Linked DNA regions of Homo sapiens. The protein of the gene in region 5 purifies or fractionates together with the protein of the main gene of each other region. This does not show direct contact. Each region holds a gene or a part of one and is shown on either strand. Other genes may lie near its edges. The genes, in order: KDM4C, IDH3A, YTHDF3, NFASC and ME2.

The links.
Region 1: the proteins of ME2 (region 5) and KDM4C purify together in Homo sapiens (affinity purification with mass spectrometry; one large-scale study listed by BioGRID and IntAct). This does not show direct contact.
Region 2: the proteins of ME2 (region 5) and IDH3A fractionate together in Homo sapiens (co-fractionation; one large-scale study listed by BioGRID). This does not show direct contact.
Region 3: the proteins of ME2 (region 5) and YTHDF3 fractionate together in Homo sapiens (co-fractionation; one large-scale study listed by BioGRID). This does not show direct contact.
Region 4: the proteins of ME2 (region 5) and NFASC fractionate together in Homo sapiens (co-fractionation; one large-scale study listed by BioGRID). This does not show direct contact.

Annotation. Positions count from the first base shown.
Region 1 is NC_000009.12:7,168,974-7,175,698, forward strand, and holds the end of KDM4C (lysine-specific demethylase 4C), read left to right. Parts: intron 1-824; coding exon 825-917; intron 918-5,579; coding exon 5,580-5,756; 3' UTR 5,757-6,675; downstream 6,676-6,725.
Region 2 is NC_000015.10:78,166,362-78,169,479, reverse strand, and holds part of IDH3A (isocitrate dehydrogenase [NAD] subunit alpha, mitochondrial precursor), read right to left. Parts: intron 2,013-3,118; exon of another isoform or gene 1,105-2,012; coding exon of another isoform or gene 995-1,104; exon of another isoform or gene 559-994; coding exon 475-558; 3' UTR 1-474. Other genes in the region: long-chain-fatty-acid--CoA ligase ACSBG1, read left to right, coding at 995-1,104. UniProt on the Homo sapiens protein: Catalytic subunit of the enzyme which catalyzes the decarboxylation of isocitrate (ICT) into alpha-ketoglutarate.
Region 3 is NC_000008.11:63,209,954-63,213,286, forward strand, and holds the end of YTHDF3 (YTH domain-containing family protein 3), read left to right. Parts: 3' UTR 1-2,833; downstream 2,834-3,333. UniProt on the Homo sapiens protein: Specifically recognizes and binds N6-methyladenosine (m6A)-containing RNAs, and regulates their stability. M6A is a modification present at internal sites of mRNAs and some non-coding RNAs and plays a role in mRNA stability and processing.
Region 4 is NC_000001.11:204,825,399-204,832,748, reverse strand, and holds the start of NFASC (neurofascin isoform 1 precursor), read right to left. Parts: upstream 4,098-7,350; 5' UTR 4,074-4,097; coding exon of another isoform or gene 3,967-4,073; intron 1-3,966. UniProt on the Homo sapiens protein: Cell adhesion, ankyrin-binding protein which may be involved in neurite extension, axonal guidance, synaptogenesis, myelination and neuron-glial cell interactions.
Region 5 is NC_000018.10:50,880,903-50,887,627, forward strand, and holds part of ME2 (NAD-dependent malic enzyme, mitochondrial isoform 1 precursor), read left to right. Parts: intron 1-6,725.

The DNA.
Region 1 (6,725 bases), on a different chromosome or scaffold from region 5:
GGTTGAGGTTGCAGTGAGCTGAGATCAGGCCACTGCACTCTAGCCTGAGCAACAGGGCAAGGCCCTGTCTCAATTTAAAAAAAAAAAAAAAAAAAGGAAATATATTATCTTTTCTTTCACAGAGAGAAACAATTCTCCTTGTTACGTTGTCAGAGCCTCTTAAAGAAATGAACCGTGCTGACAGACCCAACCCATTTTAATGCTGAATTTCCCACAGTCTCATGTTTTGTGATTTCCATTTGATCAGCAGCTACTTTTCTTTGTTGTTGCTTCGCCAGATAAAGTTTTCATATCCTGTATTCCAAGACACTCATTTCCAAGAATTTTGGCCTGTTTTGAAATGTATTTTGTATTTAGTTTATTTATTTATTTTTTTGTTTTGAGACGGAGTCTTACTCTGTCACCAGGCTGGAGTGCAGTGGTGCGATCTCAGCTCACTACAACCTCTGCCTCCCAGCTTCAAGCGGGTCTCCTGCCTCAGCCTCCTGAGTAGCTGGGACTACAGGCATGCGCCACCATGCCTGGCTAATTTTTGTATTTTTGTTAGACAGGGTTTCACCATGTTGGCCAGGATGGTCTCGATCTCCTGACCTTGGGATCTGCCTGCCTCAGCCTCCCAAAGTGCTGGGATTACAGGCGTGAGCCACCATGCCCGGCCTCTACTTAATAAGGGAAATAACTCTTCTTACTTCCTTGGTTGTTGGCTGGTTCCCTTGTTTGTTCTGTTTGAGTCCTTTTCATCTTTTCATGTAGTTAATTGGAGCCTTTAAAAATGGTCAGTGCTGTTTTTTTAATATGTATCATGTTATATTATCTTTCATTAGGTTGAGTTTGAAGATGGATCCCAGATAGCAATGAAGAGAGAGGACATCTACACTTTAGATGAAGAGTTACCCAAGAGAGTGAAAGCTCGATTTGTAAGTGCTGGCAGATGCCACTTGGGGACCTGCCAAGTGAATTCCTTGTCCTCACCTCATGTTTCCCAAGCCCAGCAGGAAACATACTTGGGCTTTTGGATTAATTCTAAAAAAAGCCAATGCAACATTTTCCTTAGTGGAACCTATTGAATGCAAACTTCAAATTCAACCAAAATCGGGGAAATTAATGCATGTGCTTTACTTTTCTTCTAATGAAGTCACATGATGCTTCTTTGTGTTGACATTTATTGGTGCACAAAAATACTTACTGAATGTGTGCTCTGTGTAAAACACCAGGAGCAAACAAAGATACCATCAAGGCATTTGCAATCTTGTTAGTAGAAGCAACATTAAAAGTATTCAGGAGTAGATCAAAGGGGACTCGGCATAATTGAATGTCTGTCTATTCTTTTATAGGTTTTTCATGGATTGACTACCTTCTGTCTCAGAAAGTTACTGATGTTTGTGTCAGTTCATCATTAAGCTAAACTCTGACTTTCATAATAAAAGGGATAAACAAAGCCTAAATGCTAGTTGTGGGAATACTAAAGCAGTTTTTTAAAAAGGAAATAGTAGTTTCATGCCCTCACATACCATTAAAAGATGAACAAACATGGACAAATATTCAAAACTGCAGTCATTGAAAAATATAATTCACAATAATTTAGACTTCATATTATTGTATCATAAAATATTCAGTGGACCCTGAAATGAAGTCAGTTTTATTCATTTAGAATTATATCTATTGTGTCTGTGAAATGATAAATCCTAAATAGAGAAATTTGAATGGATGGGGTTTTTCTGACTAAAATGAAATTTTTTTTCTGAATAATTCAGTTTAGTGAGTGCTTATGATATACTTGTCTGCAGTGATAGAGTCACTATAGATTATTTGGTTATTTTGGAAAAACCAAGGGTTTTCTTAAATCAGGGATGTCCAATCTTTTTGCATCCCTGGGCCATACTTGAAGAAGAAGAATTGTCTTTGGCCTCACATAAACTACACTAACAATAGCTGATGAGCTACTAAAAAAAAAAAAAAAAAAAGCAAAAAAAAACTCATAATGTTTTAAGCAAGTTTACAGATTTGTGTTTGGCCGCGTTAAAGCCATCCTGGGTAGCATGCAGCCGGCGGGCCATGGGTTGGACACGCTTGCCTTAAACGTTCAGTTGTGTATGCAGCTTTTTTCCAGTCAGATGGGATCCTGACAGCAGAGTAACTGCATCAGGTGGGAACTGACTTTCCTCTCAGCTGCATCCTTCAGAGGAAGGTCCTTCAAAGTGAAATCGTCAAGAGGAGTGGTGGTATTGCTGCCCACTCGATGGGAAATGTGGCTCAGAGGGGACCCACACACCTGTAAATAGAGTAACTACTAGATAATGACAGCAAGCAAAGAAAAAATTAAATATTCCTGTTGTAAAGATACCAGCCAAATCTTACCAAGACCGAAAAACCTTAGATGACTTGTCGCTGTTCTGAGACCTGAAATTTCTTGAGAAAAACTTTCCTTTTCGAGATGTTAGAGATAGCTTCGTCTCGTTCTGTATTCCTGTCTTCCTTGGACTCCCCTCTTCCCTGCCTTATTCCCAGCTCCTCCCGCTCCTTTCTTTTCCTTTTTCAGCACCTAGAGATTTAGAGGATGGGGAGTGGAGTAGGTAGCCTCTCAAAGTCTCTTGGGTCTTTCATTTTCTAATCGATGTATGACTAAGCATCCTACCAGCTGAGTCTTGTAGATTTCAAATACTGTTTCTTAATCACATGAGAAGAAAGCTCATTGCTTTCATACTCTGATCACAATCTCTTTGTTTCACAGTAGATTTCGCTCAGATACCAGGATGCCTTCCCCTGTGGCTGTCTCGGAACACAGGTCCTGGATTTTCTAAGGTCTATTTCACTGAACAAGCTCACCAACATTCAATTTTTTTTTTATTCTCTGAAAAAATTTTTAATTAAAAAAAAAGTGAAAATATGTAAATCACATCCATACACTCTGAATGCAGCCTGCTATTCTGAGCGGCTAAGCCAAGTAGAAAATATCTTAGGGAACAAAGGCTCACGGTCACTAAGTCCTGTTGGCCACCTTTATTGAATCAAAGACATACACAGTCTTGTCGTAGCCAGCCTGTTTCTCCCCTGGGTTGGTACATAGCCCTCAGACCCTTGGTTAGTCTGTCCATGATTATTACTATTTTTTTTCCAGTTGGCAAAACAAATCTAATTGGAAAACTCATTGATGGAAGATGTTTTATGGTTAGAAAAGTCTTTTTTGTTTTTTAAGGATGGAGGTTAGCCGCCCTTGTCAGGAGGCCTTGTATTTTAATGACTTCGGCTCACCCAGACACACGCTGACTGGGGGAGAAACTGTTCAAAAGAGCCAGCAGTCCACCTCAGTGATTGTGTGGGGTTCTTTTCCACTCACTTCAGAAGCAGCCCCGTTACCTTTTATTGTCTCACAGAATAACCATAGCAACGGTGCATAATTAGCTAGAGCTCCTGGTAAATCGGTTTTATTATTGTATTTGAGAGGCCGACTTTTGCTGTTTCTGCACAGTGGCAACACTTTCATAGATGTTTTATTTTCTTCTTTGATAACTTTAGCACTTACACAAGTGAAAGATTACTCAGAGGAAGTATTTTGCCAAGAATGAATGAAACAAAAGTGTTTTCTCCTAATGGCAGAGGGAACCCAACCAGCCCATAATGATTTAGTTTTCTTCTCTAGTGAAACTAGGTGGTATGTGGGGGAAGCCGTGGAGGTGGCCTGTTACCCTGAGTAACTGTCCCATGAACTGGCTGGAAACATGAACAGCTTTACGCTTCGGTACATTTTTTGTTTTCAGGCTTCCTTGTGGCTGTTTTCTTGTTTTTCTCTTCTTTACTATGGACCGTGTGTTTTCAAGTCCTAAAGTGTCTTTCACCTCTGCCTCTGCCAGCAGCCAGGGGAAGCAGTCTCAGCACAGTGAAATGTGCTGTGTGTTGATGTCATCAGAAGTCATCCACCTCAGTGAAAACAGCTGCCAGTGCATTTTAGGAGGCAAGATAGTAGGGAATTGGGAAGCAAAAATAGTGCCTACCATAGACTTTAGGCTTTATCTGATTATCACAGAAAAAGCCACATGCCCTCACTCAGCAAACACTTACTGAACAGCAGCCAAATACTAGCCACATTGTTTGCTGTGGGGAACACATGTAAAATTGGGTACACAGTCCCTAATATCCTCACCTTTATGGGGTTCCCCTGATGGGGAGAAACTTACTTGCCCCTTACCTCTACCACTGCCCTCCTCTTACTGAGTGGATGTGTCAGGGCCACAGGAGTCCCAAAGAAGGACCCTTAAGCTTGCCGAGGGCAGAGACAGTAGAATAGAATAACTTTCACAGAAATGAAACAGTGTGTCCAAAGACAGAGAAGCATGGGGCCCTGAGCCAGGCAAGTATGACCAGGCCCTGCAACTGATGCCGTCTGAGCAGAGCACGGGGCAGGCTTCTGGCCAGGTTATGTAGGTCTAGCCTGGGGAGTGGGGATGTCATCTTGAAGGCAGTAGGTTGCTGGAAAATTACAAGCAAGGGCATATGATCATGTAGAGTCTTATAATAAGAGGGCTTTTAGAGAGCTTTCTTCCAGTGGTACTGTGGGAAATAGGTTGGAGGTACAGCATTTATTGCAGTGCTTTGCAGAGGTGAGGGCCTGCCCCATAGGGTAAGGATCAAGAAGAAAGGCTGAAGGGCTTCAAGGTACATGCAGGAGGAATCCTGGACACGGTGGGGAAATGTCTACAGTGCCTTTAGGTTTCTGGCCAATGTAACTGGGTGCATGGGCATGGTGGTGCCTTTTATGGAATGTAGGAAGGACAGCAATGAAGAAGGAAGGCTTTCAGTTCAATTTAGGACAGGTTGATTTGAAGGGCCTCTGAGACAGGGACTTTGTGATGCCTGCTGGGGAAATGCACTTACAGGCCTGAGCTGGAGCAGATGTGAGCATCTCCTGCAGACACTGAAGCCAGGGGTGTGGGCACAAAGGCCCAGGGAACAGGAGTGGAGAGGAGAAGGCCCAGTGCCAAACCTTAGGGCATCGTAGTTGAGCAGATAGTTAAGAAAGGGAACCCCTGAGACATCAAAAGTGAGCAGCCAGAGAAGGAGAAGCAGGAGAGTGGGTTTACAAAATGACAGAGAAGAGAGCTTTAAGCAGTAATTAGTTGGCAGACTAGTCAAGTCAGTTTAGGGATAGGAAGGTGTCACAGGAATTAGCAACTAGGACTTCATTCAGCAAGAACAGTTTCAGGGAAGGGGTGGGGCAGAGGCCCAAAGCTAAGTAGGAGTAAAGGTAACTTAGAGATGACTGTTGACATTTGTCAAAAACAGAGGGGAGATGAAAAATGAGGGAAGTTTAAAACGAGAAGACTTTAATCTTGCTTTTGTTTGGGGAAGGTCCCTGGGGTTGGAGGGTGGGGAGATCCTGGAGAAAGTAGGGCTAAATGGAGCCCCCCACTTTGGGTGGGAGAGGCGAGGGAAAGCCCAAAGCCATGCCTGGGGCCCTTTTAGCCTGAGCTGGTGACCTGGGCATCTGCACCCTAACCCCAGCTGACCGAGTCAGATCTTTGTCCAGTGTTCTGAAGATCAAATGCCGTGCCCTTTTGCAATATAACACCAGCTGCTTTTAGTCCACAGCCTCTGACATGCGATTTGAAGACACGTTTTATGGAGCAGACATTATCCAAGGGGAGAGAAAGAGACAAAGAGTGCTGAGCTCCAGGTTTAAGAATGAATATGTGGCCGACCCTGTATACCGCACTTTTTTGAAGAGCTCTTTCCAGAAGAAGTGCCAGAAGAGACAGTAGTCTGCATACATCGCTGCAGGCCACAGAGCAGCTTGGGTTGGAAGAGAGAAGATGAAGGGACATCCTTGGGGCTGTGCCGTGAGTTTTGCTGGCATAGGTGACAGGGTGTGTCTCTGACAGTGGTAAATCGGGTTTCCAGAGTTTGGTCACCAAAAATACAAAATACACCCAATGAATTGGACGCAGCAATCTGAAATCATCTCTAGTCTTGCTTTCACTTGTGAGCAGTTGTCTTCTATGATCCCAAAGAAGTTTTCTAAGTGAAAGGAAATACTAGTGAATCACCCACAAGGAAAAGCCACTGCCACAGAGGAGGCGGGTCCCCTTGTGCGGCTTAGGGCCCTGTCAGGAAACACACGGGGACCTCTCTCTCTAGCTCCAGCAGGTGGCACCTCGGTACCCAGCGGGTAGGGCGATAATTTATATATTTTCCACAGTCAGGGAAGGACTCTCACTTATTTGTTTCAAATTGCAGTTTTTATAAAACATTTTTAAAACACAAATGGCATGTATGCTAATGAGATTTACCCGTGTGCTATCTGTATTTCCCTTGTACAGAACTTTTACATTTTTGAATATTCCTATTACTTTTGATTGTGTCTGATGGGAACTGAGTTGTTGGCCTTTGTGAAATGAAATTTTTGGCTCTTGAGAAAGAATTCTTATGAATTGTTATGCGAATTTTATATATTTAAAGAGGGAGATCTGGGGCTGTTATTTTTAAACACTTTTTTTCATAATACATATTCCGAGTAGATATTTATAAAATATATGTTTCTTTCATTATGTGTTTGTAAAATTAGAGTTTAAATAAATATGCTTTGATGCATAGTTTTGAACTAATGTAACATGATTTTTCTTTTTTAAAACAGCCTGAAAATGTACTAGTGTTTAAAAATAAAGATTTCCATTTTCTCCAGTCCTGTCTCTGACTTGCTTATTTGTCTGGGTTTAAACCAGTAGAAAAAC
Region 2 (3,118 bases), on a different chromosome or scaffold from region 5:
TCTTGTGCCCATTTAGTTTTAGAAGAGTGTCATTTTGTGCTATTATGTCAATATCCTGTTTTATTTCCATTATGTTTTTCAAAAACCGAAGAAAATAAGGTTTTTCTTAAAAAGTTAGACATTTTCTCTTGTTAATTCTGTATCCTGTTATTTACAGCTGAAGAGAAACTATTTTAACTTAAGTGTAAAATGGTTTAGAATAGCAAATGATACAGTCCACTCAGAGTTTACAAAAAAAACATTTACCAGGTAGACACTTAATAAATAAAACAAGCACTTGGAAAAAGTTCTTTGAAAACAGACCTAGGGACATCCACCTGCATCTTTTGCACAGATTTTGTTAAGAAAAGGCCAGATCTAAAAATGTACTGTCAAGAAACAAGCAAACCAATGCATACATACGTAGGTATTCTAAACAGAGGTTCATGTGGTGTCCATTTAGAGTGACTGATGTAAATGCCAGTTGTAGAAGTGTTAATCTAAATCTTTTACTCGGCGACAGATTTCCTCTGTGAAGTCTGAGCATTTTGCATTGCCTCCCAAATCTTTTGTCAAGCTCTGAGAAAAGGAAAAAGCAAAAATAAAAGATGTATCCGCAAACTAAACTAAACCAAGGAGATTTTAAAGCCCTCAGTGAGATGCCACCTGGGCAAGTTACTCGGCTGCTCTTTCATTTAGTTCCTCATTTCAAAGTGAGGAACCACTCCACCACCATCTACCCAGCCCAGGAGGATCGGGATCCAATCTCATAGTGTATACAACAGCACTCTGCAAAGAATAAGGTGCTCTTGATGCAAAGGGAGGCAGGGAGCTTTACCAAAATTTTCCCTTTGTTCACACAATAGACCCTAACCCAGATTAGTTGGTCATGGATATTTAAATAAAAGCGAATCTAAATAAGAAGTTTCATAAAAATCCTTGGGAAATATGTCTCAGGAATAGACCTGAGACATATTTTGATCTATTTTTGTTTTTATTATTATTTTTTTTTTAGATGGAGTCTCACTCTGTTGCCCAGGCTGGAGTGCAGTGGCACGATCCCAGCTCACCACAACCTCTGCCTCCTGGGTTCAAGCGATTCTCCTGCCTCAGCGTCCTGAATAGCTGGAATTACAAGTGCATGCCACCATACCCAACTAATTTTTGTATCTGATCTATTTTTGGAGGCTGGGACACAAATACGAAAGAAATATTTAAATCATTAACTCTTTTTTTTTTTTTTAAGAGACGGGGTCTCACTATGTGGCCCAGGCTGGTCTTGAACTCAGAGGCTAAGGTGATCCTCCTGCCTCAGCCTATAGCTGCAACTACAGGCATGCACCACCACACCTGCCTAAATCATTAACTCTTAAACCTCCCTCTTTAGGAAAGAAAGCCTCCCATACAACTGATCTGTTCTACCAGCTTATCCTTTCTTTCCTGCATACAGACCCCAATATATTTAATTCTCTTTATCTTTCCATCCTACACAATAAAAGGGCCCACTATGTAATTCAGGCACCTCTCTACTGGGCTGTAGATTATAACTTCCCAAATATAACTTTAAAGAATAAGAAAATCATATGACCTCCAATGTGACTATCAGGCTGTTAAAAACAAGCCTGAATTTCTTGTATTTTGGCCACACGATATAATTTCAAATTACAGAATTTTTTTAAAAGAAGGGACCAACTTTGAAGATATTACGCTAAGTGAAATAAGCCAGACTCAAAGGACAAATACTGTATGATTCCACTTACATGAGGTACCTAGAGTAGTCAAATTCATAGAGACAGGAAGCAGAATGGCAGGTGTCAGAGGATGGGAGGGGGAAGGGAAAGTTACTGTTTAACGGGTGCAGAGTCTCAGTTTGAGAAAATGAAACTGGTCTGGAGATGACTGATGGTGATGGTTACATTACAATGTGAATGTACTTAACATTATTGAACTGTATACCTAAATACGGCTAAAATGGCAAATTTTATGTTATGCATATTTTTCACAATTTTTGTTAAAAAGGACCTCAAATTAGGGATGAGTCTTCAAGTGCATTATTTCCTCTAACTTCGGAATAGCCCGCGACACTTCTTCCACAGGCCACAATTGCTTACCGAGGCGGTGGAGCTTGTTGGGTAAGGCCCAGACTGCGTGTTAATACCAACTTGGGTCATTTAGGAGCTGTAAAACCTTGGACATATTATTTATTCTCTCTGTACCTCAGTTTCCTCATCTATAAAATGGAATTATAGCATCTACTTCAAAGAGTTATAGAAAAACTTTGCTGAGATGATATATAAAGAACTTAAAAGTTGCATAAGTATTCAATTAATATTAGTTATTACTTTTATAAAACTTCTGTATTGCTTTTGTATTATAGATGCACACAGTGTAACATATAAGACTATTGTATTAGAGGTACATCTGCATCTGTATCTGCCACTAGATTCCCAGCTCCTTGAGGCTCAGCATCTTACCCTATTCATCATTTTACTCTTCACACCTTATAAGGTACACTCAACAGACGTTTGTTGTGAAGAGTAAAAAGTTGTCTATAAAAATCAATGAACTTGGCCGGGTGTGGTGGCTCATGCCTGTAATCCCAGCACTTTGGGAGGCTGGGGCGGGAGGATCACTTGAGCTCAGGAGTTCGAGACCAACCTGGCCAGCATGGTGAAACCCCATCTCTACTAAAAATACAAAAATTAGCTGGGTGTGGTGGCACACGCCTGTAATCCCAGCTACTAGGGAGGCTGAGGCAGGAGAACTGCTTGAACCCGGGAGGTGCAGGTTGCAGTGAGCCAAGATTATGACACTGCACCCCAGCCTGGGTGACAGAGCAAGACTCTGTCTCAAAAAAAATCAATGAACTTGGCCAAGGTCACACAGCTAACAATAGGATAATTGGGCGTGCACCTGATGCTGCCTCCCAAACCACTGACCTTTCCACTGTACACTGATGTCTATACATCAGTGCTGCTTAACTTTTTTTGGATGAAATATCTAGATCCTCACCTCAGAAAATGCACACATGTGCACACATACCCTGTTCAATCTGGGACCCACGTTAAGAATCCTTGTTCAACATCAAATGCTTGGGCCCGCCTGAGAACTATTATCTGTCACTGTCCCTTTCACTCAG
Region 3 (3,333 bases), on a different chromosome or scaffold from region 5:
GCTGTCTTTTGTAATTATGCATCCTAGCTAAGGCACAGAAGACTGAATGAATGCAAGGATTCATTAACTCTTTGAATTTGTTAAATACTAACAGTTAACCATTAGAAGTGGTTCAATGATGTAAGAGTCACACTGCTTCAACTTTTTCTTTGTTGTAGTTTTTAAATTGTCGATTTTTAGCTATTTGACAGATTAAAAGCAAAATAATCATGCCATATTTAGTCCTGGAGTTCAAGTCTAAATGTTGATGTGAAAAATTATTGTAGTAAACTTTTAATATGGCAAAGCAACCTTAAGCTCTATTTTAGCCAAATGAAACATAATCTGAAATTATATTAGAACATTTCCCTTGTCTTCAAACTGTTTGGTGTAACAGAATATTGATATGCAGCTTGGTGGATTTCACCAGTTAATGCACATTCTTCTTCCCTCCTCCCCCCATTAATATGTATACTGAAAAATGTGCATTTGTCTGAGGAATTATTTTGTTTGCTACCACTTAATGAATCTCAAAATTTTGAGTAAATGTACCTCAGTCTAATCAGACTTTTTATGACCTTTATAACTACATTTAAAACCCTTAATTCCTATTTCTGGGTGTTTGCGAGCCTGATTGCTATCATGAAGTAAAAATTTATTACTCTAGGTATTCACTAGCTAAATAAACATAGTTCTTGTTTAGCAAGCATATGTTGTTCCTCAGCTCTTTTCTCCAGCTTTTGCAGTGTCCTGGCATCCTTAAAATACTTTGAAAATATGGCCTTGATCCATGGATTAAATCAGTATCTAAGTGAATGTGTTGATGTTTTATTGATCAGATCTATATAAGTGGGAATACAGCATATATCTGGATATTCTTATAGTTATCTTTTTAACATCTTATTTTTTTCATTAATTACATATCAACATTAATTTTGTATCTTGAAGCAAATTGATTTTGTATAATTAAATGTGTCAAGCATCTGTATTAATTGATTTGATGGCATAAGGTTATGAAAATAATGTACTGCCCCATGTATTACTGTTCCAAAAGGAGAAAGCTATGTAGAAAGATACATTAAGGGTGAAAATAGCAATACAGTAGATTTGAATACCTTGATGTTTTGCATTACTTCATTTATGTTTACATCATGTTTAGAAATGTTTTCATTTACTGTGGTCTTTGGTCACTTCAGCTCAAAGACCTAGTGATGGATATTTCTTTGAGGCTTTCATTTATATAATTTTATTTTGTACAATGTTTTTTTTAAATGTGCAAATACTGTATTCAAGTGAAAAAAATACAGTATTTGTAGATAACCATAGCTACTACACAGTTCTTCGGTAGTCCCAGTGTAGTTATATCAGTGTTTACTGAAGGGAACATCAAAATATTAATGGTATATTATAAAATAAAGACTTTCTTAAAGGAAAATTGCACCTATTTTACCTTTTTAAGAGTAAGCCATGAAATCTTGTAACATGTCTCTTAACTATTTATAATGAAAAGTGGCATTTGGGTATAGTCACCACAGCAATGTTCTACATCCCTAAGATTATCTAGGTAGGACATGTCAAAGATGACTGTTGTCATTCTGGAGGTCCTATTAGAGAATATTATAAAAGGGTGACCTTGTAGGAAGGATCTGAGTCCTCCCCCTGAGGTTCTCTTTTTCTTGGTGCTTTATTAGCAACTCTGGATATTTTTATAAAACTAGTTACATTATAAACGGTTTCAAACATGTTTAATTTACATTAGGTTTTTATGTAAGAGTGTCATGGAAGCACTCAGCAAGCAGGCTGATTGCAATAGACTCAGACATGCGAATAAATGTAATTGAGAGTCTATTCATGGTGAGGAGTACATCCCAGTGCCTTTAACCTGGATTTCTAATCTTAAGTGAAATGGGTGCAGCATTCCTTTGGAAAAAAAAATCTTTTTATTTTCAAGTGATAATTTTGTGTTTTTCTCATATAAGTTTTCTCCAGAGCACCCACCTTCTCTTCCTTCTTGGTCTGTCATTATATTGCAAAATATTTTTCCTCTGAATGAAATTATCACAGGTTGTCTCAAGCACAACCAACTGAATGTCTCTTAACTGTGGGGACCAAAAGGGAGAGAGCCTGGGGTCTACAAGAGGAGACACATCATCAAATGTTTGAATGATCACAAATTAAGACATTATCAGCCCAGTAAATTTCTTGCTTAATGTTTTTCCAAGTTCTGGCTTGAATATTTCTTATTAAAGCTATCTTATGTGGGTATTTTATTTTGAAAGGTATTATAGTTTGTATATTTAACAGTAAGGAGGAAACTGTAACCAAAATTAGTATTTCTCTATACGTATTGGTACTTGAAGATTCCTTTCAAAAGAAATCCAGCGTTTTCCTAATTTTAGTACTTAATTTCTCTTTTTAATTTAAGTGATCTTTCTAATTCGAAAGCTGTGTTCTTTTTGAATACCGTGCATGGGGGTTAAGCTGATGTTAAAACAGTTTGCAATAAAAAAAAATGAATCAGCTTAAGTCATTTAATCATTTCAAGTGCATTCTGCATCCTTTAAAAATAAGTTTAAGAAATTTAAGAGAATTGTGTTTTCATTAAGTTTTGCATATCTTTTGTTATGCCATGTAAATTCCCTTTTTCGTATGATTAAAGGAAGGTTATGATAAAATGATTAGTTCATTTACATTCACTTGTAGCAATTACATGAGAATTTGAATTTTGTCGTGTTTGGGTTTGTTCATTCCTGTGAATGATGGTACAGTTAGGTGAGATTTTCTGTTATGGTACCCAAACTCACCATTTGGTCCTCTTTAATCTTTGAGGGTTTCAATAAAAATTGTTCACTCATATCTGTGTTCTTTCCATTTTATCTTCATGAATATGTATTGCTTGCCAGAAAACGTAACATTTTTGCCTACTCTGTTATGGATTTCCTGATTGACATATCTTTCACGTACAAATAGATTATATCACTCCTTCTGGTTGACTTTAAATTAAACAGAGCAGTTAATCAGAGGGAGGGTAACAGTTTACCTTATTTTTTATCCATTCCAAGGAGCTTATTGACTTACATGCTTTTAATACTAAGTTTAGAACAAAAGAGAAAGAGAAGGCCTGTTTGTTTTTTGTAGCAGGAGGAAATAGTGGCAGCAGCTAATAATCCTAATCCCCCACTCTTGGTACCAAGGAATGTTTTTCTGACATTGTCTGCATTACCTCTTGGGATTGATAGTTTATGTGGATAGGATCATGGCAACTCTGGGTGATGCACTGATTATTGCTGGGCTCTCTATCTAAGGTATTTGTTCAGATAGGAAAATTACAGAATTGTTTTGTGTTGTCAAAAC
Region 4 (7,350 bases), on a different chromosome or scaffold from region 5:
GGTTTCATTTCTGTGTCTCCAATTTGACTTACATGCCCAATAGCTTGCACAGCTCCTGACAGATTCAAAGGCTCAGGATACATTGATGAAATGAACAAAAATGGGTGTGTGGGGGAAAAGAGGGGCTACTCAGACAGATGAAACTGACAGTCTCTCTCCTTAGGCTATTTTCCCACTTCGGCTATGGATATTTGCGGGAATCTGTGGTCAAGTGTATAGCTTCTAAGGACCTCTCCTGCTTACCAACAACTTGCCCTCCCCATCAATGACTCCCACCTGACTCTGACCTCCCCATAATGCCAAATCCTTTCACACACCTTGCAGGTGTGTGAACCTTGCAGTCCTCACAATATTTTTCCTCGCCTTGCCTCTCAGCACATCCCTGTGCATCTTGCCTACACACGAGTAGCTCCCAGAGCCTCTTTCCTCTGACTCACTGACATTCTAAGCATATCCAGCCACACTTTACCCCTAAAATACAAGAGCTTAGAAGATGGGATTGGGAGAGTTAAGCAGCCTCGACCTCATCACAGAGCTCCCTTTGGGTATTCCCCTATCAGGTTCTAGCCACATCTAGCCGGGTTCACCTTGTTCACACAGGTGTTCACACAGAACATTACCCCTCTAGCCCTTCAAGCTGGGGATCTGACAACACCTTGAACCTCATCTTGTCCCCTACCCTTTTCCTGAGAGTCAACTTCAGGGTCAGCCCTGAGCTACCATTCCGGATAGCATCAGCCAAGCCCTCTTCATAGCTGTGGAGAGCAGGGTGCTGATACCACTGGAATTAAAGATCCCGCTGTGTAACATCCCTATCCGGATGCTCTTGCTCAAGCTTATCTGTTATTTGTCTGATCACCTGTCTTCCTCTTCCATTGCCCAGGAGCTCGGAGAGATTGGACCCTAGCTTACTTTTCATCTCTATGGTCTCAGCACCTAGCAGAGCAGCACACCGTAGGGCTTAATGGATCTTTGTTAAATGAGTAAGTATGAAACCGGCCTTACGTTCCTCTCACTTCTCCCCTCCCCACCCCAAACATCACCCCAGGCAAACAGACTGAGAACTGAATTTTTCTGCTTCCCCCTCTCTGATTTCCTAAGAATTTCTTTTTCTAAAGACAAAGGGATGATTCTCACACTCCAGCTCCTCCATGGTCTTGAAGATCTCAGGGTGCCTCTGGCCTCCAAAAAAGCCTGAGGGAGAAGAGTGGAGCCAGAGGTAGGAAACAAGTTGCAATATACTGATCAGAGCCTTGGCATCCTGTCTCTCACTCACCACAGAAATCAGACCCTCCTCTGGCCCACCCACCCCAGAAATGCAAAGCCAGAACCCCACCCCCAGCTCTCAGCCACCTCTTCAATGTGTGCCTTAAAAGAACCAGCCCTTGTGAGCGCAGCCAGTTCAGCCCACAGGGAGCTGGCTAGGTACAATTGGAAGGTCTTGCTCCAGCTCTCTGGGGAGCTGGCTTCTCCCTCCGTGTGCCTTGGTTTATTTCTCCGTACTCTTTCTGATGCCAAACAAGGGGGTGAGGGGTGAAATTCATTGCACAAAACTGGGAAATATGTACACTGTTATTAGAATCCCCCACTTCACCTGAGCTCCAGTCAAGCATTTCAACATCAGGACCTTAATCCAATCAGCTCTCAACAACGGCTGCAGGTAATGCTTTCTCCCTGTACCAGGAAAAGCTGGCAGCCCTTAGGCACTGATGCCAGGGAAAGCTTCCAGCCCCACCCCCTCTCACGCTGGAGAGGCGACGGAGAAGGGTGACAAAGCAAGGTGCAGCCAGTGCCCCCAGCAGCACATCCCCTTGCCAGGCACTGCCTGAGGCCCATTCAGAGTTTACTGCACAGGAGCTGAAGGAGTCCAGTCACTTGGATTCCTAAAGTGAAAGCCTTGCAGAGAAGGGACAGAGTCTGTCTGCAATTCGCTCTTAACGCCTCAATTTAAGCCTCTGGGTTTCGTCTAAGCCCCTAAGACAGGAATCGGGCTGCCATTCCCTGTTCCACAGTGGCAACCACAATTTCTGGGGCTAAGTGGGAGTGAGTCTCTTTCCTTACTGGCATAATTCTCTCTCTCTCTCTCTCTCTATACACACATCACACAACACACACACACATCACAACACACACACACATCACAACACACACACACATCACAACACACACAACACACCCCTTCAGTTGAATCCAAAGACAAGGGGAGAAATTACTCCCTCCGAAGTGCCAGCTCAGTCAAGACAAAAGGTGAAATGTATTAGCTGCGTAGCAGGCCCCCATCTCCTTCAATTCTTCCTGCAATGCAATTCCACCACATCCAATCATCCCCAAACCAGAAGGAGGATAGATCTCTGCCTGCCTTCCTCCACTGCCCCCACCTCACAGCTGGTATGGCCCCTATCCCCAGAGGCTTCCACTCTTCACACACATTTTCCCTGGGCTATTCTCCTATTGCTTTAAGTTCTGTGGGCTCTGAGGCTGGCTTTGGCTCCACACAAACAATTAAACTCCTGTCCAACCAGGTCTCAAAGCCCTGTGGCTTGCCCTTGCCTTGCTGGAGATTTGACTGAGGCCCAGCAGGGCCCAGCACATTTCCAAGGGTAGATGAGACGCACTAGGCCCTCATGCCAGGGACACAGGCAGGCAGAAAAGGGGTATTGTTGTCCTCTCCCCCACACTGAGGGATGAGGCATCTCTGCTCAACACACACACACACACACACACACACACACACACACACACCCCATGCCAAAATGCCAAGGAAGGAGTCAGGAGCAGAACCTGGCTCAGGACAGGATGGGGGCTGCCATGGGGACCAGATTCTAGGTGATTCAGCACTCTGCCCACTCTTGGCCCAGCCCATGGGCCACACTCATGACAGCTCCAGATGCCAAAGTGCTGACTTGGAGGCTGAAGCAGAATCTTTTCTAAAATCCAAAATTATCCAGCCCTCCAGCAGGGCTCCTCATCCAGGCCTTTACATCAGGGCTCAGGCCAAGCCCCAGGAGGAGTCTGCTCAGTCATTCCCCTGGACCCTGCCCCTTCCCCATCCTAGTTTCCCAATGCCTAGCACCCCCTCCCCCAATCCATCTAGGAAACAAACCTGAACAGCTAGAGGAGTAGAGTGGCTGCATGGCTGGAGAGGAACATAAGAGAGAGGCCTACTAACCCCCAGCATTCTTCCCCAAGCCACAAATAGGATCGAACATGCAGAAAGGGGTTATATTCCACAACCAAGATCCCCACCCAGGGAAGGGGGGTCCAGAGGCCACTGAGGGAGGGCTGGGTACAGGCTGTATGGCTCCACACAGCACCAGGAAGGGCAGCTAGGGAAGGTGACGGGTGTCAGGCCAGCTAACAGCCAAAGGGGGGAGAAGGCGGGGTTCTTGAGAGGGACTGTGATGCAGGAGGACACCAAGAGGCAGCTGGGAAGGGGCTGGGACAGGGCGTGCAAGGGGGAACCAGGGGAGGACAGAAACTGAGGGAGCAAATGGAGAGACAGGACACCAACTGGTAGGGGCATGAGATGGGGAAGAGAATAGGGGAGGCAAGAAGGGGCTGATGTGTGCGGTAGGAAATACAGGAGGCATGGGGTCATCCAAAGTGGGGTGTCGAGGTAAACAGAAGTACAAGGGCAGGCAGGGCTCACGGATGAGGCGGGGACAGAGAGGAAAGGGAAAGGGTTGAGGATGCGGGAAGGGGGAGGGGACGCGGCCAACGAGATAGAAAGGGTGTTGGGGTGGGCAGGGGGCTGGGAGCTGGACGGGGACGGGGTGGGCATACGAACAGAATCGGATGGATTCGGGGCAGGTGACAGTGTGGAGAGGGGAAGGGATGGGAATGTGGACGGAGGGGGAGGGGGCAGGTCAGGGGATGGAGACAGACGAGGGCGGGAACAAGGGGGTGTCGCTAGGTGGGTTTCCATGACTCTCTACCCCCATCTCTCCGGTGTTCGCGCTCGCCTACCTCCAAGGGCTCGGGCTCCGGCCCTGGGCGCTGTCCGAGCTGTCCGCTGCCGGCGCCGCCACTTCCCCCGCGTCCCCTGCAGCGCCTCTCGCCGCCAGCCGCCGCATTAGGGCAGAGACCAGCCCGTGCGCGTCCCCGGGCGGCCGGCGCGCCCCCGACACCCTGCGTGCGCGCCCCCGCGCCCCTCCCTTCGCGCTCCTAGCGGCCGCTGAGCGGGGACCAGGACAGAGGCGGAGGGAAGGATGCTCCGGACGCAGCCCCGCCTGGCGCGCTGGGGAGCGGTGCGCAGAGCCAGGGCCGGAAAAAAAAATCCTCCTTTCTCTTTTCACCTGAGGCCTCTTTGCGGGCTTGCCTGGAGAGTGATAACTAGTCTCCCCGTTTCCGTTCGCTGAGCACCTACTACGTGCAAAGCACACAGGAGGAAGTACCCTGAAGCCCCAACAGGATCGCTTGTTTGCACCTCCACCATAGACTGTGACTTTAGGGAGCAGGAAGTTGCCGGACAGCTTGTGTTCTCAGGGCCTAGCACAGAGACTTGTTTGTGGTAAACTCTCCAGCAACATTTGTTGATTGGCAAGTCGTTGGATCCTGATTCAGGGATGTGAGAGAGGTTGTGACTGCTATGAACAGTGCGGGGCTTTCTTTTAGAAATGGGAGATTTCCTCTGCCCTAGGGGGACTCAGGCCTCAGTCGTGGCTGGAGAACTATCTGACATGATAGCAAGACATTTATCTGTGGACATCAGTTTCCACAACTGAACCATGAAAAGTTGATTGGGTGGTCGCCCAAGGTCTCTTCTAGCTCTGACACGAAGACTGCATTAGGTTCTGTGCACAGGATCTGAGCTCAGAATTATCACCTGAAACAGTGGAAAGATCCCAGTTAGGGAATCATAGAATCTTTGTCTTGGAAGAGCACTTGGAAGCTTCTAGTTCAGCTCCTCATCCAAAACTACAGTCCCCTGCAGCATCCCTCTGTGGCCCCATTCAAGGGCTACTTTCTCTGTGCTCATAGCTCCTACCCTGGCACCACTGTCTTTTATTCTGGATGAGAACACCAAAGTTCAAGGAACCTGCCCAAGTAATAATTCAAAGCCCAGATGCATCTGACAGTGCCTAGTTAAAACTACTTTGCTATTTTAAGATGGGCCCTACAAGTTTTAGATTTCACCAATACTAGAATCTTCTAATATGGTCAAGTTGAAGGATCACAGGATTTGCCAAGAAAGTCCTGGCTTACCAGCAGGGTAAACTTGGGCAGTTCACTTAACCTCTCTAAGTCTTCTTTTTCCCATCTGTAAAATGGGCATAGAGTGAGCATCAATGAGATAAGGTACTGAACCAAACTGTTCTTTACAAATGTTAATTATTGTTCAGCCTTCCCTCCCCTTTCTTCATTACTTTTAAACAGCAAATACACGAAGGTCTAGAGAGATGGACCCCACACAGTGGTTTGGTGGTTGAAACTGAACTGGGACTCAAGTTTCATGGCCTTAGTATAAAGAAATTAAGTGTGGGCCTAAAGGGAGCATGGTGACCCCCAGAGGCCCTGAGGGTGAAGGTGTTTCCTTGGCCTCGGTGGTGTCCCAGAGCTGCAGGCAAGTCCTGATGGAGGGAGAGGCACCCCCTGCTGGTGATGGACTCTGGGGACTAAGAAGAGCCTACGCACCTTGCAGGCTGTTCTGCTGCTGTGTCAGGAACAGACTCACTCAGGACCGAGGGCAGAAAGTGGTTGCTCTTTTTCTTTCCTGACATTTATCTGGCCTTCCTGCTTCTTTTTCTTCCCTGGGTTTGCACCTCTAGTTCTGGCTGGAACCCTCAGCAAGCATGGACTTTCAACCCAGACCTGAAACCTCACTCACTGTGTCCTCTGTCATGGTGAATGGCAAGTCACAGGATTTTCACATTCCCTAGTGTTTCATTCCTCCCAATGAAATTCCATAAGCCCTGCCTCATCCTGGGCTCAGACCAAGAGAAAGCCCCAGGTATGAGTCTCGGGCACTTGAAGCCATCCTCTTCCACACTGGTCCCTAGGAAGTGTGGGGAAACTGGCAGATTCGTGCATCATTGGTGGAGGTTTAACTTGGTATGGCCTTTTTGGGAGAGCAATACAGCAGTACCATCAAGACTTTAATGACACCCTTGACCCATCAATGCCACCTCAAAGAATCCAGCCTGCAGAATCACTGGCCCAATCCACAAAGATGTGTATGCACAAGGATACTCAGTGCGGCTCAAGAGGACAATGATTACATCCATTGTAATAATCCATGCAATAGCACAGTTTTAAAAATTATAACAATGATAACACACACACATTTGTTTTTTAAAAAGCAAGTTAATAATGACATACAGGGAATAAAGGTATTATCCTTTTCTGGGGGAAAAGGGAAAGCAAATTGGGAGACAGGGTGGGAAGAAGAGGAAAGAGGGAATAATGCCCTGGGCTAGTTTAGAAGATAAGAGCAAAGGCCCTTAAGCTTACTAGGAAGGACCTAATTTTTGTTGAAGCCTTTCACATACTAGGCCTTTTGCATATATTATGTTACTCATTCCTCAGAAACCCCAGTGAGGTGGGGATCATTGTCCCCAATTTACTGATGAGGAAATAGATGCCCAGTGAGGTTAATAAGAGTACAGCATCACACAGATGGGGTGTGGTACAGTGTTAGCTTTGCCCCTAGAGAGATCTGACTTTTGTCCTTGGCTCCTGGGAGGTCATCTCTGAGTCCTTGGTTATCTCACCTGATAAGAGTATCTTTATCTACCTGGGGGTCTTGGGCAAAACCAGGTAGTCTATACTAACAATGATGGATGGTGGGGTCTTTGGGCATGCATCGGCTCAACCTCCAGAGGGGCTAGAAACTAAGGTCAACCACTTGGATGGTCAGCCATGACTACATGACTGAGCCCCAATAAAATCCCTGGACACTAAGGATTGGAAGAACTTCCCTGATTAGCAATATTTTGCATGCAGTGTCACACATTGTTCCTGGGAGACTTTAGCACTGTCCTCAGCTTCATCAAGAGAGAATAACTGCGATCTCTGCACATGCAACTCTCCTGGACTCTGCTTGACCTGTCTCTTCTTTTGGCTAATTCTAATCTGTATCCTTTTATTGTAATAAACCACCATTATGAGCCTATGAGCTCTCAGTTCTATGAGTCCTTCTAATAAATTACTGACCTAAGAGGGGTCTTGGGAATGCTTGAGCTTGCAATTGGTCAGAAGTAAGAATGGTCTCAGGGACTGCTTCCTAACTCTGTAGATGGTAAGTGGTGGAATTGGGAGTTGGACAAAGATCTTAGAGTCTCCAGGGTGTACCCTCTCCCACTGCACAACACTCCCTTACGCCGACCTATTGTATAACAAGTGCCAAAGGAC
Region 5 (6,725 bases):
AGGAAAAAACCCATTTACCATTTGGGAACTTCTTTTGTAAAATTAAAAACTTACAGCTATGTATGTATAATCTGTATATTAAGTTAAAAACTCTAATTGATTTTGGTGAATTTCAGACAAACTAGACATATTTTATTCTCTTTAAGACGGAGTTTTGCTCTTGTTGCCCAGGCTGGAGTGCAGTGTTGCGATCTCCACTCACTGCAACTTCTGCCTTCCGCGTTCAAGCGCTTCTTCTGCCTCAGCCTTCTGAGTAGCTGGGACTACAGGCATGCACCACCATGCCCGGCTAATTTGTGTGTGTGTGTATTTTGAGTAGAGACAGGGTTTCACCATGTTTTTCAGGCTGGTCTCGAACTGCTGACCTCAAGTGCTCCACCTCCTTCGGCCTCCCAAAGTGCTGGGATTACAGGAGTGAGCCACCATGCCCGGTGAACTAGCCGTATTTTAAAACACAAATAACATTAAAACCTATATTTACTAAGGATTAATATTACAGGACAAAATTCACACTAAATAAAAATTACATTGACTTTATAAAAAGATAACTTTTATTAGAAATTAACTATTTTATTTGAAAGTTACGATTTTGATTTTATGGTGGCATATTGTACCTCCTTTGATCAATATGTACAAATTTCAAAAGTGATAAAAAATATATTCTGTATATACTTGTTTAGGATGACATTTGATGTTGCCTGTATTTGTATACCATCCAGATTCTCATTCTTGACTTTGAGATTTGATTTGAAATATTTTGAATAAATGTTAATCATGATTATCCTTATAGCCTCTTATATTAATTTGATCATTAAAAGATGTTGATGCAGAAACAAGCAGGCATTTAGAAGGCACCTTGTGACCACCTTAGTCTACAACTACTAATAGTAATGCTTATGATAACTAGCCTTTCTAGAGCACCTAGAGGGCATTGTGATAAGCATCTTAATGAATTATCTAATTTAAATCTTAAAATAGCCTATTAAATAGGTCTTGTAGTTTAACGTTCCCATTTTACTGATGAGAAAATGCAAATTGGGGAGGTTGTGATTTACTCAGCATCACAGAGCTAGCAAATGGCAAAGCCAGGATTTATTTTGTTTTGTTTTTGTTTTTGAGAGAGGGTCTCACTTTTACCTAGGCTAGAGTGCAGTGGTGCTGTTATGGTTCACTGCAACCTCAACCTCCCATGCTCAAGCCATCCTCCTGCCTCAGCCTCTGAAGTAGCCAGGACTGCAGGTGTGTGCCACTACCCCCAGCTAGTTTTTAAATTTTTTGTAGAGATGGGGTTTTGTCATGTTGCCCGGGCTGACCTGGAACTCTTGAGCTCAAGCAACCCACCCACCTTGGCCTCCCAAAGTGCTGGGGATTACAGGTGTTCGCCACGGGATTTAAATCCAGGCAGTTTGACTCCAGAACTTGCCCTTTGACCACTCTGCTAGACTATTTCGTATGGGTTTTTTAAAGCAAACTTTGAAATCAAGTAGTCAAGCTCTTTATAGTGATGCTATTGTAAAGCTCTAAAGGCTTGACACTATTAATAATATGTATATATCAACATTACTACACAGAATTCTGCAAGTTTCCCCTCCCCCACTTTATTGATGAGAAAAATGAAACATCTAAGTCAATGGCTTCCAGACTTTTGGACTTTGCCAACAAGTAAAAAACTGTTATGTGTGGGGGACAATTGGGACCAGACGTAAGATCTCCAACTTTTATTTCTGTCAAGGTTGAGAATCTTCTTAAACACTACTGCAATCTGGTCAGGCACATTGGTTCATGTCTGTAATCCCAGCACTTTGGGAGCCAGAGGTGGATGGATCACTTGAGGTCAGGAGTTCGAGACCAGCCTGCCCAACATGGTGAAACCCCGTCTCTACTAAAAATACAAAAATTTGCTGGGCATGGTAGCACACACCTATAATCCCAGCTACTCAGTAGGCTGAGGCAGGAGAATCGCTTGAACCTGGAAGTCAGAGGTTGCAGTGAGCTGAGATCACACCACTGTACTCCAGCCTGGGCGACAGTGATTTTTGAGACTCTATCTCAAAAAAACAAACAAAAAAACTACTGCAATCTACTGTCCTGATCCTTTCCTTAAAAAAGGGACATTTTTACCACCACAAAGGTAGGAAGGTCATAGTTACAACATAAAAACAGAATAAATTTAATATTATGAAAAACTATATTACATTGTGTTAGTTTTTCCTCCTTTGGTCATAGACCAGTCAAAAACATGTCCTAAACTAACACCAATTCAGAGATCATTCAGGAATGCCTGGGTGACACAACTGATTCTGAACTGGTAATTAGCTGAGTCCAGTCCAGATTCACTCTCCAGTCTGTCTGACAGCAAAGCCTGTGCTTGTTGCCCTGTCATGAGCTCTTTCTAGTGAACAGTGTCTAGGGTTTTGGTCTCCTGTGAACAGTCTTTCTCAGGTGTTGACTATTTCCTTCTCCCTCCAGGTAGGGGGCCAGGGAGAATAGTCTCCAGCAGCCAATGTCTTAACAGCTTTAGTCCCAGTCCAGTTTGTAAATACCACCCAGAGGGTGAGTTCCACTGCTTCCCTGTTTGAGGTAGTTCTTTTGTCTGTGCTTACTCATGGAAGGGGCAAGGCAGTGACCATACCAGGGCAAGAAACCACGGGCATATTCCAGTATTCAAGAAACTCTCCTGCTGGGTGTGGTGGCTCACACCTGTAATCCCAGCACTTTGGGAGGCCGAGGCGGGCGGATCACCTGAGATCAGGAGTTTGAGACCAGCCTGGCCAATATGGTGAAACCCCATCTCTACTAAAAATACAAAAAAGTAAACGGGCATGGTGGTGGGCACCTGTAGTGCTAGCTACTCGGGAGGCTGAGGCAGGAGAATTGCTTGACCTAGGAGGTGGAGGTTGCAGTGAGCCAAGATTGTGCCATTACACTCCAGCCTGGGTGACAGAGCAAGACTCTGTCTAAAAAACAAAAAAAGAAACTCTCCAGTAAATAGCTTGATTTTACTTAGTCATTCAAAATTCGAATCCCCACCTTCTTTTATTTCCTGTTTTTACTTCACTCACTCCTATAGTTCTCCTTCTGTCATCTTTGTGTAACATAAGGAGTTAGGTGTGTGTTTTCCTCGTTCTGTCTTGTCTCCAGCAGATATTAAGCCCACCTGTCTGTTTCTGTCTGTAAGTGTTCTAAGTTCCAATTTCGGCAAAGATTGTTTTTTTCCTTAAGTTTTTTTTTAATTATGCCTACTAAAGACACTATTAAAATTACTTTTATATTTTATTTTACTCTATCACTTGCTAATAAAATTATCTAATAGTTTGAATAATATATGTTTTATCTTTAATTATAATACTCTTTTGCATATATTCTCTCATTTAATCATCACAGTTTTCTATGAGGTAGATTTGAGAGGTGGTGTTATCTTTATATACAAGCCAAATTCATTATTTTATTTATTTGTTTATTTTGAGACAGAGCCTCAATCTGTCATAAGGCTAGAGTGCAGTGGCGTGATCTCAGCTCACTGCAACCTCTGCCTCCTGAGTTCAAGCAATTCTCCTGCTTCAGCCTCCCGAGTAGCTGGGACTACAGGCACGCACCACCATGCCCGGCTAATTTTTGTACTTTTAGTAGAGACTGGGTTTCACCATGTTGATCAGGATAGCTTTGAAATCTTGACGTCATGTTCCACCTGCCTCGGCCTCCCAAAGGGCTGGGATTACAGGCGTGAGCCACTGCGCCAGGCCCAAATTCATTATTTGATAGGAGCAAGATTTTAACTAGGAGTTGAAAATAGAAGATTTCGTATATCAGCAACCTGATCTTAACTACTGATTCCAAAATGTATTTTTTGGGGATTGCCTTTGATTCAAAATAAAATGTATTCCATACCATTTTAGATTTGCCTACCTTGCAGTACTAATCACCAAAGTTTGTGTGTGTTTGTGTGTGTGTGTGTGTGTGTGTGTGTCTGAAACGGAGTTTCGCTCTTGTTGCCCAGGCTGCAGTGCAGTGGTGCAATCTCGGCTCACTGCAGCCGCCGCCTCTCGGGTTCAAGCAATTCTCCCACCTCAGTCTCCCGAGTAGCTGGGATTGCAGGCGCCGGTCACCACACCCAGCTAATTTTTTGTGTTTTTAGTAGAGACAGGGTTTTGCCATGTTGGCCAGTCTGATCCCGAACTCCTGGTCTCAGGTGATCTGCCTGCCTCAGCCTCCCAAAGTGCTGGGATTTCAGGCATGAGCCACCACGCCAGGCCCAAAGTTTTAACTGTAGTAAATAATGCTATCTCTCCTGGAAGAGCCACATAAACATATGATGAATTCTTTTAGAACTTCTTTTTAGCTGGGTGTGATGGCTCATGCCTCTAATCCCAGCAACTCACAGGCTGAGATCGGACGATTGCTTGAGGCCAAGAGTTCAAGACCAGCCTGGGCAACATAGCAAACGCCAGCTGTACAAAATATTAAAATTAGCCGGGCACAGTGGCTTGTACCTGTAGTCTCAACTACTTGGGAGGCTAAAGCAGGTGAATCACTTGAGCCCAGGAGTTCAAGACTGCAGTTAGCTGTGATTATACAACTGTATTCCAGCCTGAGTGACAGAGTGAGATACTGTCTCTAAAAAAAAAAATATATAAAACTTTTTTTAAATGACAATTTATAAAATTTAAATGGTTTTTTTTCATCACTTAGCAGAGTATCAACCATCCCAATTTTGTTAATAATACTTTTGTCACCATGTTGGGGATTCTGGGGAGAAAGCTACTTGGTATATATATATATTTTTAACACTGTGCTGCTATAATTAACATTATTATTCATATGATACTGATTAATAATTTTTAAAAGTGTAGAAACATGTATATATAATTTGTACTTTTAGAGCCAACTGCTGGTACTTTCTGCAGTATAATAATAAATGGAAATAAAGTGACATGGAGCTTTTATGCAAGATAATCCTGAAAAGATGTATAAAAGTCAAATTTGAGTAACTTAAAATTTAAAAATAGCCTGAAAAATCTTGCTATTTAAAGAAGTCCAGTGAAGAATTCTCTTATATAGCAAATTCTCTCTCTTAAAAATAAAATCAATGGAGTTTGCTCAAAGCAGGCTCTACCACTGTTTCTTCTTTTAGATTGTACACATTTAATAGATATCCATTATTAGATTCAGATAGTGAAGACAATTCATAAGTACACAATGCTGGTTCTATATATATGTGTGTGTGTGTATATATTTATACTATATACCCACACAAATTTAAAATTTAAAAAAAAAGGAAAACTTGGGAAGCCTATACAGGTATGTGTCTATTTTTTAATTTAAAATTGAGAAAGGGTAAGTTAGATTTTTTTTTTTTTTTGAGATGGAGTCTCACTCCGTTGCCCAGGCTGGAGTGCAGTGGCATGATCTCGGCTCACTGTAACCTTCACCTCCCAGGTTCAAGAGATTCTCATGCCTCAGCCTCCTGAGTAGCTGGGATTACAAGCACGTACCACCCTGCCCAGCTAATTTTTGTATTTTTAGGAGAGATGGGGTTTCACCATGTTGGCTAGGCTGGTCTTGAACTCCTGACCTCAAGTGATCCGCTCACCTCAGCCTCCCAAAGTGTTGGGATTACAGGCGTGAGCCACTGCACCTGGCCAAGTTCTTTTTCTTGGTTTTGTTCATGTTCATATTTCTTTTAAAAAGCACAAAGGAGAGCTTTATTTAGGACTTTATAACTTACTGGTAATAGAACATTAAGAGAATACTGCATGGTGGTGATTTAATAGATTCTGTTTAATGCTTTTGATGTTTACCTAGAGAAAACCAAATCTGGCTGGATGCAGTGGCTCACACCTGTAATCTCAGCACTTTGGGAGGCCAAGACTGACAGATCAATTGAGGCCAGGAGTTTGAGACCAGCCTGGGCAACATAGAGAGACCCCGTCTCTACCAAAAATACAAAAAATTAGCCGGGCATGGTGGTGCATGCCTATAGTCCCAGCTACTCAGGAGGCTGAGGCAGGAGAATCACTGAATCCAGGAGACGGAGGCTGCAGTGAGCTGAGATCGTGCCACTGCACTCCAGCCTGTGTGACGGCAAGACTCTGTCGCAAAAAGAAAAAAGAAAACCAAATCTGATGGTGTAAGTTTCACAGCAGCTAAAAAGACATGGATTCCTGTAGTGTTAAGTAAGAATATGAGAGCAATACTAACCCTAGGCCTCATTCCGGCCCTGACGTAGGTGCTCAATAGATGAGTAAATAAGTATAATATATGTTTAAACTGAATCAACTTCCAGTTTAAAGTGATCGATTAGTCACATGTTGAAATCTCCCTTTCTTGCTCTAAAAACACAGAGATGGTAAGTAAAATTGAAACAACACAGAGCCAAGTTTGAAAGCAAGAGAGAAATCTCCACATGCAGGAGTGAAGAAAGAACCTATAGCAGTGAGCTTGATTGAAGACAAATGTTCCATGGGTAGACAGGGAACAAACACAGTACATGAATACTACTTAGGATCTGAAGTGTTTATTGCTTGCCAGGAGACGGAAACTGAGTTCCCAAGGCCTGTTCAACCTTCAGAATCAAAACTAGACATATTTTGGGAAGCTGAGAATGGGGAAACACTTTTCTCTCCATAAATGAAGACTGTATCCTCACTGAGGTTGAGACGAGAATTAAACCATCCATCCCACACCATAAGTAGAATCCTAAACCTCAACTTGTTTGAATTTGGCTT